Linked DNA regions of Homo sapiens. The protein of the gene in region 2 interacts with the protein of the main gene of each other region in a pairwise test. Each region holds a gene or a part of one and is shown on either strand. Other genes may lie near its edges.

What was found.
Region 1: the proteins of FEZ1 (region 2) and PDCD7 interact in a two-hybrid assay, tested with the Homo sapiens proteins (2 studies listed by BioGRID and IntAct).
Region 3: the proteins of FEZ1 (region 2) and PCNT interact in a two-hybrid assay, tested with the Homo sapiens proteins (one large-scale study listed by BioGRID and IntAct).
Region 4: the proteins of FEZ1 (region 2) and BRD1 interact in a two-hybrid assay, tested with the Homo sapiens proteins (one study listed by BioGRID).

What each region holds. Positions count from the first base shown.
Region 1 is NC_000015.10:65,116,879-65,120,638, reverse strand, and holds the end of PDCD7 (programmed cell death protein 7), read left to right. Parts: intron 1-684; coding exon 685-921; intron 922-1,175; coding exon 1,176-1,263; intron 1,264-1,798; coding exon 1,799-1,922; 3' UTR 1,923-3,260; downstream 3,261-3,760. UniProt on the Homo sapiens protein: Promotes apoptosis when overexpressed.
Region 2 is NC_000011.10:125,489,407-125,493,496, forward strand, and holds part of FEZ1 (fasciculation and elongation protein zeta-1), read right to left. Parts: intron 417-4,090; 5' UTR 372-416; coding exon 61-371; coding exon of another isoform or gene 57-60; exon of another isoform or gene 1-56. UniProt on the Homo sapiens protein: May be involved in axonal outgrowth as component of the network of molecules that regulate cellular morphology and axon guidance machinery.
Region 3 is NC_000021.9:46,330,361-46,334,155, reverse strand, and holds part of PCNT (pericentrin), read right to left. Parts: intron 1-3,795. UniProt on the Homo sapiens protein: Integral component of the filamentous matrix of the centrosome involved in the initial establishment of organized microtubule arrays in both mitosis and meiosis. Plays a role, together with DISC1, in the microtubule network formation.
Region 4 is NC_000022.11:49,817,874-49,821,668, forward strand, and holds part of BRD1 (bromodomain-containing protein 1), read right to left. Parts: intron 3,114-3,795; exon of another isoform or gene 2,961-3,113; intron 511-2,960; coding exon of another isoform or gene 349-510; intron 1-348. UniProt on the Homo sapiens protein: Scaffold subunit of various histone acetyltransferase (HAT) complexes, such as the MOZ/MORF and HBO1 complexes, that acts as a regulator of hematopoiesis.

The DNA of each region.
Region 1 (3,760 bases), on a different chromosome or scaffold from region 2:
CCTCCCAGGTTCACGCCATTCTCCTGTCTCAGCCTCCCGAGTAGCTGGGACTACAGGTACCTGCCACCATGCCTGGCTAATTTTTTGTATTTTTAGTAGAGACGGGGTTTCACCGTGTTAGCCAGGATGTTCTCAATCTCCTGACCTCGTGAGACCTCATACAAAAAATTTACAAATTAGTAGGTAGGGCCAGGCACAGTGGCTCATGCCTGTAATCCCAGCACTTAGGGAGGCCAAGGCAGGGGGATTGCTTGACCAGGAGTTTAAGACCAGCTTGAGAAACACAGGGATACCCTGTCTCTACAAAAATAAAAAAAAAATTGGCTAGATGTGGTGGCACGTGCCTGTGGTCCCAGCTACTTGGGAGGCTGAGGTGGGAGGATCTCGGGCCCAGGAGGTCGAGGCTGCAGTGAGTCGTGGTCATGCTGCCGCACTCCAGCCTGCACAACAGAGTGAGACCCTATCTGAAAATAAAAAATAAAAAATAAAAAAAAGCCAGGCATGGTGGTGCACACTTGTACTTGTAGCTACTTGGGAAGCCAAGGTGGGAGGATGGGTTGAGCCCAGGAGTTTGAAGTTGCAGTGAGCTATGATCACACCACTGTACTCCAGCCTGGGTGTTAGAGCGAGGCCTTGTCTCAAAAAAAAAAATAAATAAAATGCCATTTTGTCCTGTCTGCCCAGGGGTCTGTCCTCCAGCCTCAGCAGATGAGACTTTTACGCATCATCTTCAGCGACTGAGAAAACTCATTAAAAAGCGCTCTGAACTGTATGAAGCTGAAGAGAGAGCCCTCAGAGTTATGCTAGAAGGAGAACAAGAGGAAGAGAGGAAAAGAGAATTAGAAAAGAAACAAAGAAAAGAAAAAGAGAAAATTTTACTTCAGAAACGTGAAATTGAGTCCAAGTTGTTTGGGGATCCAGGTATGTTGCTCTATAACCAGTGGAGAAAATGAAAATACTAGATTGACGCTCTTCTCATCACGGGTGATCTCAAGCTAAGAGGTGGTAGGCAACAAATGACACCTTCCAGATGCAATTCTGTGTCATAGAACTCATGGATACAGATAGAACACATTTTCTCATTCTGTCGTAATCATAGGCTCAGTCACCTTGCCTTGAGAAATACACTGTGGATATCAAGCATGATAACGTGGTATTGTGCTTTTCTCTTTCAGATGAGTTCCCACTTGCTCACCTCTTGGAGCCTTTCCGACAGTATTATCTCCAAGCCGAGCACTCCCTGCCAGCGCTCATCCAGATCAGGTCAGAGGGGCTGGCTCTCCATGTTGTCTTTCTCTTAGGTAGCAGGAAGCACTTGAAGAAGTGCTTACATTGTTTAGGTCTATTACTGTCTTTTTTTTTTTAAGTTCCATAAGGAACTTAAAAAAAACTATGGGTTTATAATGTTTCCATGTTTCAAGGATGCTGCATACATCTTGTTTAGTCCTCATTAGTCCTTGAGAAGTTGATGTCCCTATTTTTATAGGTGAAGAAAAAAACTCAGGTTGTGACTTGCCCTGTGTTAGTAGGCACATATGCAAATACAGAATCTGTAAATAATGAGGATTGACTTTATTTGTTATTTGGTTATCCATAAGGTTTAAGTTCTTCAGAGTTTTTCCTCTTTTTATATGTACATTTAAGAAATATAGTCATTTTCTTGATTCCTAGAAATCAAGTTCTGTAATAGATTAGTATATCAGTCATTTGAAAGCTAAGTCTTAGAATATGTAGTTGCTGAACATCTTATTTGGAATAAAACAGAAATAAATAGTTGTTCTATAATGTTCTTATTAAGGCATGATTGGGATCAGTACCTGGTGCCATCCGATCATCCCAAAGGCAACTTCGTTCCCCAAGGATGGGTCCTTCCCCCGCTCCCCAGCAACGACATCTGGGCAACTGCTGTTAAGCTGCATTAGTAAAGATGCTCCAGGAGTGTGGTCCAGCCAGCGCTCTTTCCAGCTGTAAATATTAGCGATGGTGCCATCTTTTGCTGTAGACTAAACTGCAACTTCTAAATTCCATGTGGCATTCCCCTACCCTGAAGTTATGCTTTCCTTCTGTGCTCTGTGCTGGCCAGAGGTGCCTCTTGAATCAGATTAATGTGGTTTTTCAGGAAAGGACTTAGGTGAACTGAGGTTTTTACCACAGGCAGTGAATGACCTTGGTTCACCAAATTTGCCTCTGTTTTGAGGGGCTTGGTCCAGAGTGACTTGTTAATTTACTCTAACTTCCTTGTGTGTTGATGGGTAAGTACACTCAAACACTGAATACAGGTGTGTGATGGGTAGATTTCACAGCCCTTCTACTAATAGTGAGTGTGAAGGCAAGCTTGATGCAAAACCTCCTGACCTTTCCTACCTGAAGAGCCCTTTGACTTCTAGGAAGAAAGGTCAAAAATGTTATCTTCAGTTGTGTTAATCCCAGTTTTAGTGCAGCTTAGGAGGCTGCTAGTTAGGAAGATGGCAGTGGCTGTAGGCTGGGTTGCCAGAAAAGATGGTGGCCTAGTCTTATTATTCAGATGGAGAACTTAGAAAACCTGAAGAGTACCCAAATTGGATTGTATTTTAATGGACAATGGCTGTATTTTTTCCATGTTAGAAGGATCCTAATGAAAGCACCTGTTATTTTTAAGTTTCTAAGGGTCTAGTTGTTCAGAATCCCCAAGGATATTTCCCTAACCTCACTCAGTCACATTGTAGGAGCCAGTGTAGCTATGGAATTATCTTAGGAACTCAAGCTTCTAAAACTATCCATGTAGTCAAATCTAGGGGAAAAAGCAAATAAAAATAGTAAAATTTGGCCGGGCACAGTGGCTCACGCCTGTAATCCCAACACTTTGGGAGGCCGAGGCGGGCCGATCACGAGGTCAGGAGATCAAGGCCATCCTGGCTAACACGGTGAAACCCTGTCTCTACTAAAAATACAAAAAAATATTAGCTGGGCGTAGGTGGTGCACACCTGTAGTCCCAGCTACTGGGGAGGCTGAGGCAGGAGAATGGTGTAAAACCCAGGAGGCAGAGCTTGCAGTGAGCCGAGATCGCGCCACGGCACTCCAGCCTGGGAGACAGAGCAAGACTCCGTCTCAAAAAAAAAAAAAGTAAAATTTATTTTTTATATTCATTAATAAATGCTGTTGTGCTTGGAGATGATCACTCATATAACATGTCATTTTTTTGGTTCTGTTTTGGTTTGGTTTTTGCCAATTATTTTGTTATATTTCCAAAAAACTAAATAAAAATCATTTTTATTTTTTAGTTTGTGCCTTTGCTGCCAATTTGTTGCCTTCCAAATCACTTAACACACACTTTCACATTGATGAAACATATTTTCATTCAAAAATTCAAATTTATTAAGCAGGCATTTGTTACAGGAATTTGAATCTTAAATGCTAAACTTTATCTGCAAAATCCAAGTCTGGATTGGTAAGGATACCATCAATTTTGGAAATAATGTTACGTACTGTAGTTGGAAGCTTTTGGGTGCAAGATACTAATGGCTTTGTCCCTTTTCTGTTGTTTAATTTGCATTAATTTATACATTATATAGAGTCAACAGATAGGGAATGAGGGCCACATGTCTCCAAAATGTATGTCTACGCTTATAAATCTTAAAATCTGATATGATTACCCTCATAGAGCTCCACAATCCTGTGTGCCTTTTTGTTAGATATCTCCACCATTTGCTCTCTGATGAGATGCAGGAAGAGTAGAAATAAGGTGAATTGTACGATGTGTGTTTGGTGTCTGGACAGCCT
Region 2 (4,090 bases):
AGGAGACAAGGACTACAGGGCTCTCGACTGAAGCAGGAGAGGGCAATTAAGACTTCTTACTCCTCGTCCTGAAGGGTCTCCTCCTCCTCTTGGATCTGTAACTGGTTCTTCACGGGAGCTAGGTTCTCGGTCTTGGCGTTGTAGTTCCGAAAGCAGACATTGAGCTTCTCATCAAATTCATTTACGAGGTCCTCCATGGACTTGAAGCTGATTATTTCGGAAGAAAAATTCTCAAGCTCGGAGAGGGAGGGGTCCTCGAGATGGTGGGGAGATGAACCATAGAAACACTGGGGCTTCTCCTCCGGGTCCTCCGAGCAGGAGGGTCGAAGGTCCTCAAACTCTTCATCCAGACTCACCAGTGGGGCCTCCATTCTTGCTCAGCAGGAGAACAACAGCGACTTTCAGGATGAGTTTATCTAAAAGAAATGAACAGCGTAATGTGAGTTTAGACCAGGCTAATCTAAATAATAGAGTTAACTTTAGAGACACACCTGCTTCCAATTCCCTACTCCAAAAAACAAGGCACTGGTTAAGTACGAAGCTCCTGGACAAGATCGTCTAGGTTTGCATTCTGTTCTGTCCTACCAGCTGTGACCTTGGGCAAGTGATTAATTGCTCTGTGCTTCTTATTCTTCTCAAGACAGATATAATACTGAACCCACCTCAAAGGGCTGTTAGAAGACTAAAGGAGTAAACACAGGTGAGTGCTTAAAACAGTACCTGGAAGATAATAAGTGCCAATATTATTGAATACTTTCTGTTGGTGTTTTAGTATTATTATTTTTATTACTATTACTATTACCACAGATCCATATCCTTAACTATGTGATCTGAAAGCTGAAAATTCTCCATGACTTGTTTGGCAGCAAAATGTGACATGATCTAAACTCATCTGGCAACTAAACATGACCAACATGAATATAAAGCTGTTCATGGCTTTAATTTATCCCATTTTGTGTGTTTTGCTGCAGAAATATTAACTTTTTAATTACAAAGATTGCTATCCCAGATCCCACTGGATGAAATGCGGAATGTACACTCTATTACTACTTTCCAAAATCTGAAATAATCTGAATTCCAAATGCCTGGCCCCAGGGGTTTTGGATAAGGGTTTGTATACCTAGATATTACTACCCTTATCAATAAATAGTAGAAACTAATAAAACATTGGCTGGATGTGGTGGCTCATGCTTGTAATCCCAGCACTTTGGGAGGTTGAGGTGGGAGGATCATTTGAGCTCACTCAGGAGTTCAAGACCAGCCTGGGCAACATAGTAAGGTCCCATCTCTATTTTTATTTTTTTAAAAAAACTAATAAAACATCAATAGAGACCTTCCAATAAATGCCTGAGTTGTTTTTGTTTCGTTTCGCTTTTGAGACATAGCTTCACTCTGTGGCCCAGGCTGGAGTGCAGTGGTGTGATCTCAGCTCACTGCAACCTACACCTCTGGGTTCCACCAATCCTCATGCCTTGGCCTCCCAAGTAGCTGCGTGTGCCACCACACCCAGCTAATTTTTGTATTATTAGTAGAGATGGGGTTTCACCATGTTGGCCAGGCTGGTCTCGAACTCCTGACCTCAGGTGATCTACCTGCCTCAGCCTCCCAAAGTTCTGGGATTACAGGCATGAGCCACCGTGCCCAGACAAGCACCCAAGGTTTTCCCACACATAGAGCATATGCCTAGGAGCAGAGGAATAGACTAAATGATCTATTATCCTGTATCCTGTAAGAAACAGACCCAACTACCCATGTGCTCCAAAGCCATACTCCATAACCATCTTGGGCACTGCACCCTGGAACGCTGCACACACAGAACTCCCTTCAGTTCCCACCAACTGTGGGACCTCTACCCCTCATCGGGCCATCTTCATGCACTGCTTCCAACTGTGATTTATCCATCTGTGTGTACATCTGGGCCCCATTCAATTTTAACTTAAATTCCTCGAGGACACAGAAATCCTCTGGATATCTTCCCTGGCTCCAAATATACACTGCCTACCCTGTGGCTAGGCAGTCAATCAATATGTGCTCGTTGAAAAAATGATCTATCTCCCACATACAGTTTTCCATTTTCAGTTTCAGGCAGCACAAGCATTGCTGACTATCATACCCTTCTCTACACGCTCAACAGAAAGGCTACCAAGCTTTTCTCTTCGGTCTATAGGGTTATTGATATAGTTAGGTGCTCAAATTGGAGGCGCTTCCTGAGGGGAACCAGACAGCAAAATTCATGGATTTTGCCCTAGGAGTGCCCATTCTCCATCTCTACCTACAAAACTAAAACTCTAAATAAGCAAGGCAAAGGACATGCCAGGCAAGAACACTGCCAGTTTGTACCGGGATTTTGCTGGGATTAAGTTGATTACCGTTGCTTTAAAACATATTTGGAGCATTTACAGTTTGCAAAGGCAACATGATAGGACCTTTGAATACAAAAATATATACAAGTAGTACCATATCTTGGAAAGAAGACAGGCTCGAGAGCCAACAGATCTGCCAATGGCTGGCTGAGTGACAAGCATCATTGGTCCTGATTTCCTCATTTGTTATAAGGAAGGTGTTGGTACAGAGTTAACATCTTTAGGAGTTATTTTTAATAAATCAATAATTTAATTAATCATTTTGATTGAAGTAATATGTTTATTTAATCCAATATATCCAAAGTGTTACCATTTCAAAATGTAATCCACAAAAAAACTAATGAGGCAGTTTTTATTCTTTTTTTATACTAAGCCCTTTGAAATCCAGTGTATATTTTCCATTTACAGTACATCTCACTTTGGACTAGCCACATTGCAAGTGCTCAACAGTCAAATGTGGCCTGTGGCTACCGCAAGGGACAACACAGCTCTAAAGCAAACACAAGTAATTGCCAGTCAGGGGTTCTTCATCTTCAGTACATAGACCCCTGCAGGCTCTTTGAAGGTAACTATATTTCAATGAAATTGGTTTCCTTTACAAGACTAAGTATTTTATTTTATGCATTTAAAAACATTATTTGGAGAAGGAGCCCACAGGCTTCTCCATACCACCAAAGGAGGTCATAGTGCAAAAAAGATTAAGAATCCCTGAGCAACAAAAAAGTGAGATTAGAAAAGATGGCAGAATGCAGTAGAGAGTAAAACAGTTTTCACAGCCCAGGGATTTGTGTTGATTAAGGCAGTACTCTGTGATGGCTAAGAGCATAGGCTTTGGGTTCCTGTCCTGGTCCTGTCACTCCTAGTTGGGAGACTTTGGGCAAGTTATCAACCTCACTGTGCCTCAATTTCATCATCTATAAAATGGAGTTTAAAACAGTGCTTCCCTTGAAGATTACTTTTTGGACTAAATGAGATCATCTTTGAAGTGTTAAGTACAATGTGCAGAATATAGAAAGCATCCAATAAATATCAATCATTCTAGAAAAATCAAAGCTGGGCACGGTGGCTCACACCTGTAATCCCAGCAACTGGAGAGGCTGAGGCAGGAGGATTGGTTGAGCCCATGAGTTTGAGGCTATAGTGAGCTATGATCACACTACTGTATGCCAGCCTGGGTGACAAAGTGAGACCCTATCTTTAAAAAAAAAAAAAAAAAAGTTAAAAATAATTCTAGGAAAACCAGGATAGCTAACTTACATAGAAATGTGATGTGGGGGCTGGGCACAGTGGCTCATGCCTGTAATCCCAGCACTTTGGGAGGCTGAGGTGCGTGGATCACCTGAGGTCAGGAGTTCAAGACCAGCCTGGCCAACATGGCAAAACCCTGTCTCTACTAAAAATACAAAAAAAAAAAATTAGCTGAGCATGGTGGCAGGTGCCTGTAATCCCAGCTACTTGGGAGGCTGAGGCAGGAGAATCGCTTGAGCCCAAGAGGCAGAGGTTGCAGTGAGCCGAGATCATGCCATTGCACTCCAGCCTGGGCAACAAGAGCGAAACTCCATCTCAAGAAAGAAAGAAAGAAAGAAAGAGAGAAAAGAAAGAAAGAAAGAAAGAAAGAAAGAAAGAAAGAAAGAAAGAAAGAAAGAAAGAAAGAAGGAAAGAAGGAAAGAAGGAAAGAAGGAAAGAAGGAAAGAAGGAAAGAAGGAAAGAAGGAAAGAAGGAAAGAA
Region 3 (3,795 bases), on a different chromosome or scaffold from region 2:
TCAGCTCACTGCAATCTCCGCCTCCTGGGTTCACGCCATTCCCCTGCCTCAGCCTCCCTAGTAGCTGGGACTATGGGTGCCCGCCACCACGCCCAGCTAATTTTTGTATTTTTAGTAGAGACAGGGTTTCACCATGTTAGCCAAGATGGTCTTGATCTCCTGACCTCGTGATCCGCCCGCCTTGGCCTCCCAAAGTGCTGGGATTACAGGCATGAGCCACCACACCTGGCCAGCTCTAAACATTTTTATAATGCAAGTAATTTCCCTAATGATGTTCCTGCCCCTCTTCTTAATGAATTCTACTTTTTTTTTTTTTTTTGAGACGGAGTCTTGCTCTGTTGCCAGGCTGCAATGCAGTTGCACGAACTCGGCTCACTGAAACCTCCACCTCCTGGGTTCAAGTGATTCTCCTGTCTCAACCTCCCGGGGGTTTCACCATGTTGGCCAGACTGGTCTTGAACTCCTGACCTCAGGTGATCCACCCGCCTCGGCCTCCCCAAGTGCTGGGATTACAGGTGTGAGTAACCGTGCCCAGCCTGTAATTTTTTTTTTTTTTTGAGACAAAGTTTCACTCCGTCGCCCAGGCTGGTGGCATGACCTCGGCTCACTGCAACCTCCGCCTCCGGGTTCAAACAATTCTCCTGCCTCAGCCTCCCGAGTAGCTGGGACTACAGGCGCATGCCACCACGCCCGGCTAATTTTTTTTTTCTTTTTTGTCTTTTTTGAGACGAAGTCTCACTCTGTCACCCAGGCTGGAGTGCAGTGGCACAATCTCAGCTCACTGTAAGCTCTGCCTCCCGGGTTCACGCCATTCTCCTGCCTCAGCCTCCTGAGTAGCTGGGACTACAGGCGCGTGCCACCATGCCCAGCTAATTTTTGTATTTTTAGTAGAATCGGGGTTTCACCATGTTGACCAGGATGGTCTCAATCTCTTGACCTTGTGATCTGCCCAACTCGGCCTCCCAAAGTGCTGGGATTACAGGTGTGAGTCACTGCGCCCGGCCATGAATTCTACTTTAAAAAAGAAATTTAATTAATTTTTTGAGACAAGGTCTTGCTCTGTCACCCAGGCTGGCGTGCAGTGGTGCAATCCCAGCTCACTGCAACCTTAACCTCCTGGGCTCAAGTGATCCTCCTGCCTCAGCCACCTGAGTAGCTGGAACTACTGGCATGCGCCACTGTGCCCAGCTTATTTTTTATTTTTTTGTAGAGACAGGGTCTCTGTTCATTATGTTCCAAAGCTGGCCTCAAAATCCTGGGCTCAAGCAATCCTCCCACCTCAGCATCCCAAAATGCTGGCAATACAGGCATGAGCCACAGTGCCCAGATTAGCTTGCTTTAACAAGATGATTCACTAAGAACATTTCAATTTCTTCCCAAAATAGCAAAGAAACATGACAGTGTCGACTTTTCGGGATCATTAGATGAGTCACAAGATGAATGCAGAGAGAGAGCACCCATGGCCAATGATGATGGCAAAACTGACGTGAAAATAAAATCTCAGACAAGTCTTCATTTGACAATACCCTAGATCAATCTTCTCAGAATCAAGAGGAAGTGAGGGACGAAAAGGGGACACAGTAGTCTCAATCAGCTGCCCGCTCACATGAATGATCACACTTCAAAGGAACCTGGACCATCCACTTCCTTAAGAGGACACTTCTAATGTTTGTGTGTCAAAACTTACTTGATACAAAGAGGTTGGATCAAATTTCTTATAAAGTTGTTTTAAATTATTGCTTTATTCTTACTTCTGTAAATTACGTGTAAAACAACTTAAAATGACAAAACAGTAAAACGGCCCAGAAATCTAGATGATAAATGGTGATAACTATTTTTCCTGGTATTTGATACAAATATGAGTTGGAAAAGTGCTAGAACCACACTTCTTAAGCCTTCTATAGCACTAGTTAAATCTTCTTCAGCCAAAGTTTTTGTATTTTCTTCTGAAATTCTTGACCTCTGAGCAATTTTTGGATGGTTCTCTTTTTTTTGGAGATAAAGTCTCGCTCTTGTCCTCCAGGCTGGAGTGCAATGGCGCGATCTCGGCTCAGTGCAACCTCTGCCTCCCGGGTTCAAGTGATTCTCCTGCCTCAGCCTCCCGAGTACCTGGGATTACAGGCGCCTGCCATGAGACCCGGCTAATTTTTGTATTTTTAGTAGAGATGGGGTTTCACCACGTTGGCCAGGCTGGTCTCGAACTCCTGACCTCAGGTGATCTTCCTGCCTTGGCCTCCCAAAGTGCTGGGATTACAGGCATGAGCCAATGCGTCCCGCCAGATGGTTCTTTTACCAAAAAATGGCCTCTCCTCACTTTGTTCCTCATCTGTAACTGAAAGGTCAAATTCTGCTTTCTACCATTGCTTTATTTTTATGATTTTTTTTTTTTTGAGACAAGGCCTTGCTCTGCCGCCCAGGCTGGCGTGCAGTGGTGCCACCATAGCTCACTGTAGCCTCAAACTCCTGGGCGCAGGTGATCCTCCCAACTCAGCCTCCTGAGTAACTGGGACTACACGTGTGCACTGTCATGCCCAGCTAATTTTTATATTTTTCATAGAGACAGAGTTTCAACCATCCTCCCACGTTGGCCTCCCAAAGTGCTCGGAGCCACCATGCCTGACCTTGCTTTCTGCCATTTCTGAGTTAACTTTCAGAACTGAGACAGCTGTTGCATTGTTTCAACTATTTTTCCATCATGCACTTAACAAATTGTAAGGCAACAGAGCCGAATCCTGAATATTTACCACAAAGTCTTTCTGCAATTCTACCTTCGCTTATAACCATCCTGAAAAAAAACTAAGATCTTAAAGTTGGTTAAAAATATGTCTTATATCAGCTGGGCACAGCGGCTTATGCCTGTAATCCCAGCACTTTGGGAGGCCGAGGTGGGAGGATCACCTGAGTCAGGGAGGTCAAGGCTGAAGTAAGCTGATTGGGCCACTGCACTCCAGCCTGGGCGCCAGAGGGAGGACCTGTCTCCAAAAAAAAGAAAAAAGACTTATGCTAGAAATCATCAGTATTTACCTAACAGTTAGTGATCAAAGTAAGCAATTTATTATATGTTGGAAAGCACAATAACTTCTCCCTCCCCCTCACACACACATACACACACTCTCACACACACACAAACACACACACTTATCTTCTTATGCTGTTCAATAAGCTCACTAGACTCTCCATAGCCAAACCTCTCACAATTTATAGATGGGTAAAATAAAACAAATGCACCTTTCATTATGTTTAAAGCACTGGTACAACTATAACATAAAGGTTCCTTGAGGATTCCTGATCTCCGACGCAGCATGACCAACCATCTGAGAGGGGAGTGCCCTGGCCTGGGACATTATTCGGCCACACGGCCACCAGCTGCTAGCTTTAAACAGTGGACTCTTTCCTAGAATTTCACTTTTCAGAAGATCATTATTTTGAACACAAAATTACTCCTATTTTAACATCTACAACTGGATTAAAGGCATACTAAACTCAAATATCATGAAATATTTTATAATACATATGAAAAAAACTCCTTTTTAGACTGAACTGATGATGTACAATGATATAATCAGAAAAAAGTTAATGAAATATCTGCTTCTAAAGCACCAATGGTTTTTATATACATAATTGACAAAATGGCTTAAGAAATTTGATTCCTAACTTAGTGTACAGCAGAAAGACAATGGCTCTATTCTACACATACTACTTAGTTTACCTATACATGTATAAAGAAAATAAATTTTAGCCAGGTGGGATGGCTCACACCTATAATTCCAGCACTTTGGGAGGCCGAGGTGGGAG
Region 4 (3,795 bases), on a different chromosome or scaffold from region 2:
GATCACAACTCACTGCAGCCTCGACCTCCTGGGCTCAAGCAATCCACCCACCTCAGCCTTCCAGTGTTAGGATTACTAGCCTGAGCCACCGCACCCAGTCAACTTTTCTAACAGCTCAAGTCACTCTAATTTAAATGCATGAGGAGAATATCTAGGTATTTAAAGTTCGCCACGTATTTTCACCTGAGTGATGCTTCCCTTCCTAAGGCTGACCAAGACCAGTTCATCCTTTTAAACTCAAAATAAAATGACACCAGTGAAGGCGGGAGGAGCACCCTATCAGGGTGAAGGCGGGAGGAAAACCTCATTCGAATGAAGGTAGGAGGAGCACCCATCACAAAGCCTTGCCTATCTGAGGTTCTTGTCCGTGAGGCTGAAGTCCAGGCTCTCGTAGTAGAGGAGCTCCTCCTAGAAGATCTGAAGCAGTCAAAGGAACCAAACCGACACAGGCCGTCTGCCTGCTGATCACAGTCTCTTTTAAGACACTTTCTACTTTGCATTCTGATGAACCTAGGAGTTTTGTTAAACAGATTATGCGTGTATTTATCCCTCATTTCATGCAATAACCAAAAAGAGTTATCAGGAAACCCTGTTTGTCTTTTCACCCCATGTATGAACTCTCATGTGAATGAGTCCTGCAGTAATCCATGTTAAGGGAGCCCTAATTTCAAACTGGTGCAAATGGAAAAGACTTTCCCTTTTCCTTTAAGACTAAAGACAAAATGTCCTCCTGGCCGGGCTCGGTGGCTCACGCCTCTAATCCTAGCACTTTGGGAGGCAGAGGCAGATGGATCACGAGGTCAGGAAATCAAGACCATCCTGGCTAACATGGTGAAACCCCGTCTCTACTAAAAATACAAAAAATTAGCAGGTGTGGTGGTGGGCGCCTGTGGTCCCAGCTACTCAGGAGGCTGAGGCAGGAGAATGGCGTGAACCCGGGAGGTGGAGCTTGTAGTGAGCCGAGATCGTGCCACTGCGCTCCAGCCTAGGTGACAGAGCAAGACTCCGTCTCAAAAAAAAAATGTCATTCTATACAGGTGCAACTCAATCCGTTAATAAAAACTGATGTATGCTGGAGAGAGGAAGTGAAAAGAAAAAATAGGGCTGGGTGCGGTGGTTCACGCCTGTAATCTCAGCACTCTGGGAGGCCAAGGCAGGCAGATCACCTGAAGTCACGAGTTTGAGACCATCCTGGACAACATGGTGAAACCCCATCTCTACAAAAAAAATACAAAAATTAGCCAGACACCGTGGCACACACCTGTAGTCCCAGCTACTCGGGAGGCTGAGGAACGAGGATCGCTTGAACCTGGGAGGTGGAGGCTGCAGTGAGCCGAGATTATGCCATTGCACTCCAGCCTGGGCAACAGAGCGAGGCTTCATCTCAGGAAAAAAAAGAAGAACAGAAAAGAAAAAATAACAATAAATCAATGTAAGGCCAGGCATGGTGGCTCACGCCTGTAATCTCAGCACTTTGGGAGGCCGAGGCAGGCAGATTGCTTGACCCCATCTCACCAAAAAATAAAAACATTAGCAGGGCATGGTGGCACATGCCTGTGGTCCCAGCTACTCAAGAGGCTGAGGTGGGGGAGTCGCTTGAGCCCAGGAGGTCGAGGCTGTAGTGAGCCATAACCATGCCACTGCACCCGTCTGAGCAGAAGAGCAGGACTCTGTTCAGGAGATTCTCCTGCCTCAGCCTCCTGAATAGCTGGGATTACAGGCGCGCACCACCACGCCTGGCTAATTTTTATATTTTTAGTACAGATGGGTTTTCACCATGTTAGCCAGGCTGGTCTCGAACTCCTGACCTCGTGATCTACCCACCTCGGCCTCCCAAAGTGCTGGCATTACAGGTGTGAGCCACACACCCAGCCCTGCCTGTTTTTCAAAGTGTTTATTTACCGCTGTTATTATTTAATCATAGTATATCAAACTTACAAAAAAACAGATTATAACCTTAAAACTATCTCTTTTAGCCTGGCGCAGTGGCTCACGCCTGTAATCCCAGCACTTTGGGAGTTCGAGGCGGGTGGATCACCTGAGGTCAGCAGTTCAAGACCAGCCTGGCCAACATGGTGAAACCCCGTCTCTACTAAAAATACAAAAATCGGCCGGGTGTGGTGGCAGGTGCCTGTAATCCTAGCTACTCAGGAGGCTGAGGCAGGAGAATCACTTGAACCCAGGAGGTGGAGGTTGCAGTGAGCCAAGATCACCGCACTGCACTGCAGCCTGGGCAACAAAGCAAGACTCCACCTCAAAAAAAAGGGGGGAAAAAAAAGAACTATCTTTTTTACTTGAAATTTTAATTTTTTAAACCACTAGAATTATAAAAGCAGTCCGTCCCTGAAGGCAGATTCTGTTCTGTCCACAGGGAATAAGGAAGATCCTCTTTCTCTAAAATCTCTAAAACGCTGCTCAGATGGGGTCTCATCTCCCTTCCAGCGTGACTGGCTGGCCTGAAGCATAACATCCTCAGATGCTCTAGGTGGGTCCTACACCGGAGCCATTGGTTAGTGCACACCATAACCAACTAGACTCAGCATCCCCGCCCACGGCTGCACATCAAGAAGCTTCACCATGGGCCAGGCACAGTGGCTCGTGCCTGTATTCCCAGCTGAGGCTGGGAGGAGGCTGAGGCGGGAAGATCGCTTGAGTCCAAGAGTTTGAGGCTACTGTAAGCCATGATCACGCCACTGCACTCCAACGTGGGCAACAGAACAAGACCCTGTCTCTAAACATAAAATAAAAAATAAGAAGCTTCACCCTCATCTACACAGAATTCAAATGCACAGCTGAGGCCTCCTACATGCACCCAGGGGTAGTGCCCAGGGCCTAAGAACAGGGCTGCCAGATCAGCTGCCTCTCAGACCACAGCAAGGCAGTAAACCCGGTTTCAGGCAGCAGTCAGTACTGTATTGAGAGCCTGCCCCTCACAACCACCCCAGAGGTGGGTCCAGCACCATGGTGCCAACAGGCCAGGCGCACTGGGAGCTCCTCCACTGGTGGCAAGGTGGCCTGAAGCACCAGCATCTCCTGGAGACTGGGAAACCCAGACTGCAGAGACCGCGGCCAGGAACACTCGTCCAGGTTTGTTTCTCTCTCTCTACTCGAAGCTGAAATAATAGTTTATTCCCAAGTTAGGAAAAGAACAGAACCACACAGTACGCGGTTTAGCTCCAATACATGCTTTCAAATATTTAGGTCGAGTTTTCTTCTCAATCAGCCCTGGCCACTTCAGCCCCCATGTCCTGCATGCAAACACTGCCTCCTTCAGTCCTGCCTACCCAACATCAGGAGCCAAAGAACAGAGAGCGTGCGGCCCGGCCAGGCCCGGCCTCTCCCAGAGCAGGTCATCATCTGGTACTGGCCAGGGAAGGGAGCACTTCAGACTTTTGGCTCTTCATTTTGTTAGATCACATTTTGTTTATTTTGCTTCAATTTCAGTAAAGCTGAAATTTTTAGACCTCTTATACAGAAGCTCTTAATACAAACCCTAGACTTTTTGACTCATAGGTAGAAATCCAAGCAAAACCATCTCTTCAAAGTCAGATTAATTTACAAAGACAAACACCTTGGTTTTGACAGGGTTTTCCCTGGATGGGAAGGATTATGAGCATTTTTTGTTCATTCTGTCTGAATTGACTAATTATCTGAGTATTTACAGCTCTGTGAAAAGAAACTGGACTTCACTTTGGTAAAGTAGAGTAATATTAACAAAAATCACTTAAAACTTCTTTTTTTTTTTTTGAGACACAGTTTCACTCTGTCACGCAGGCTGCGGTACAGTAGCACAAT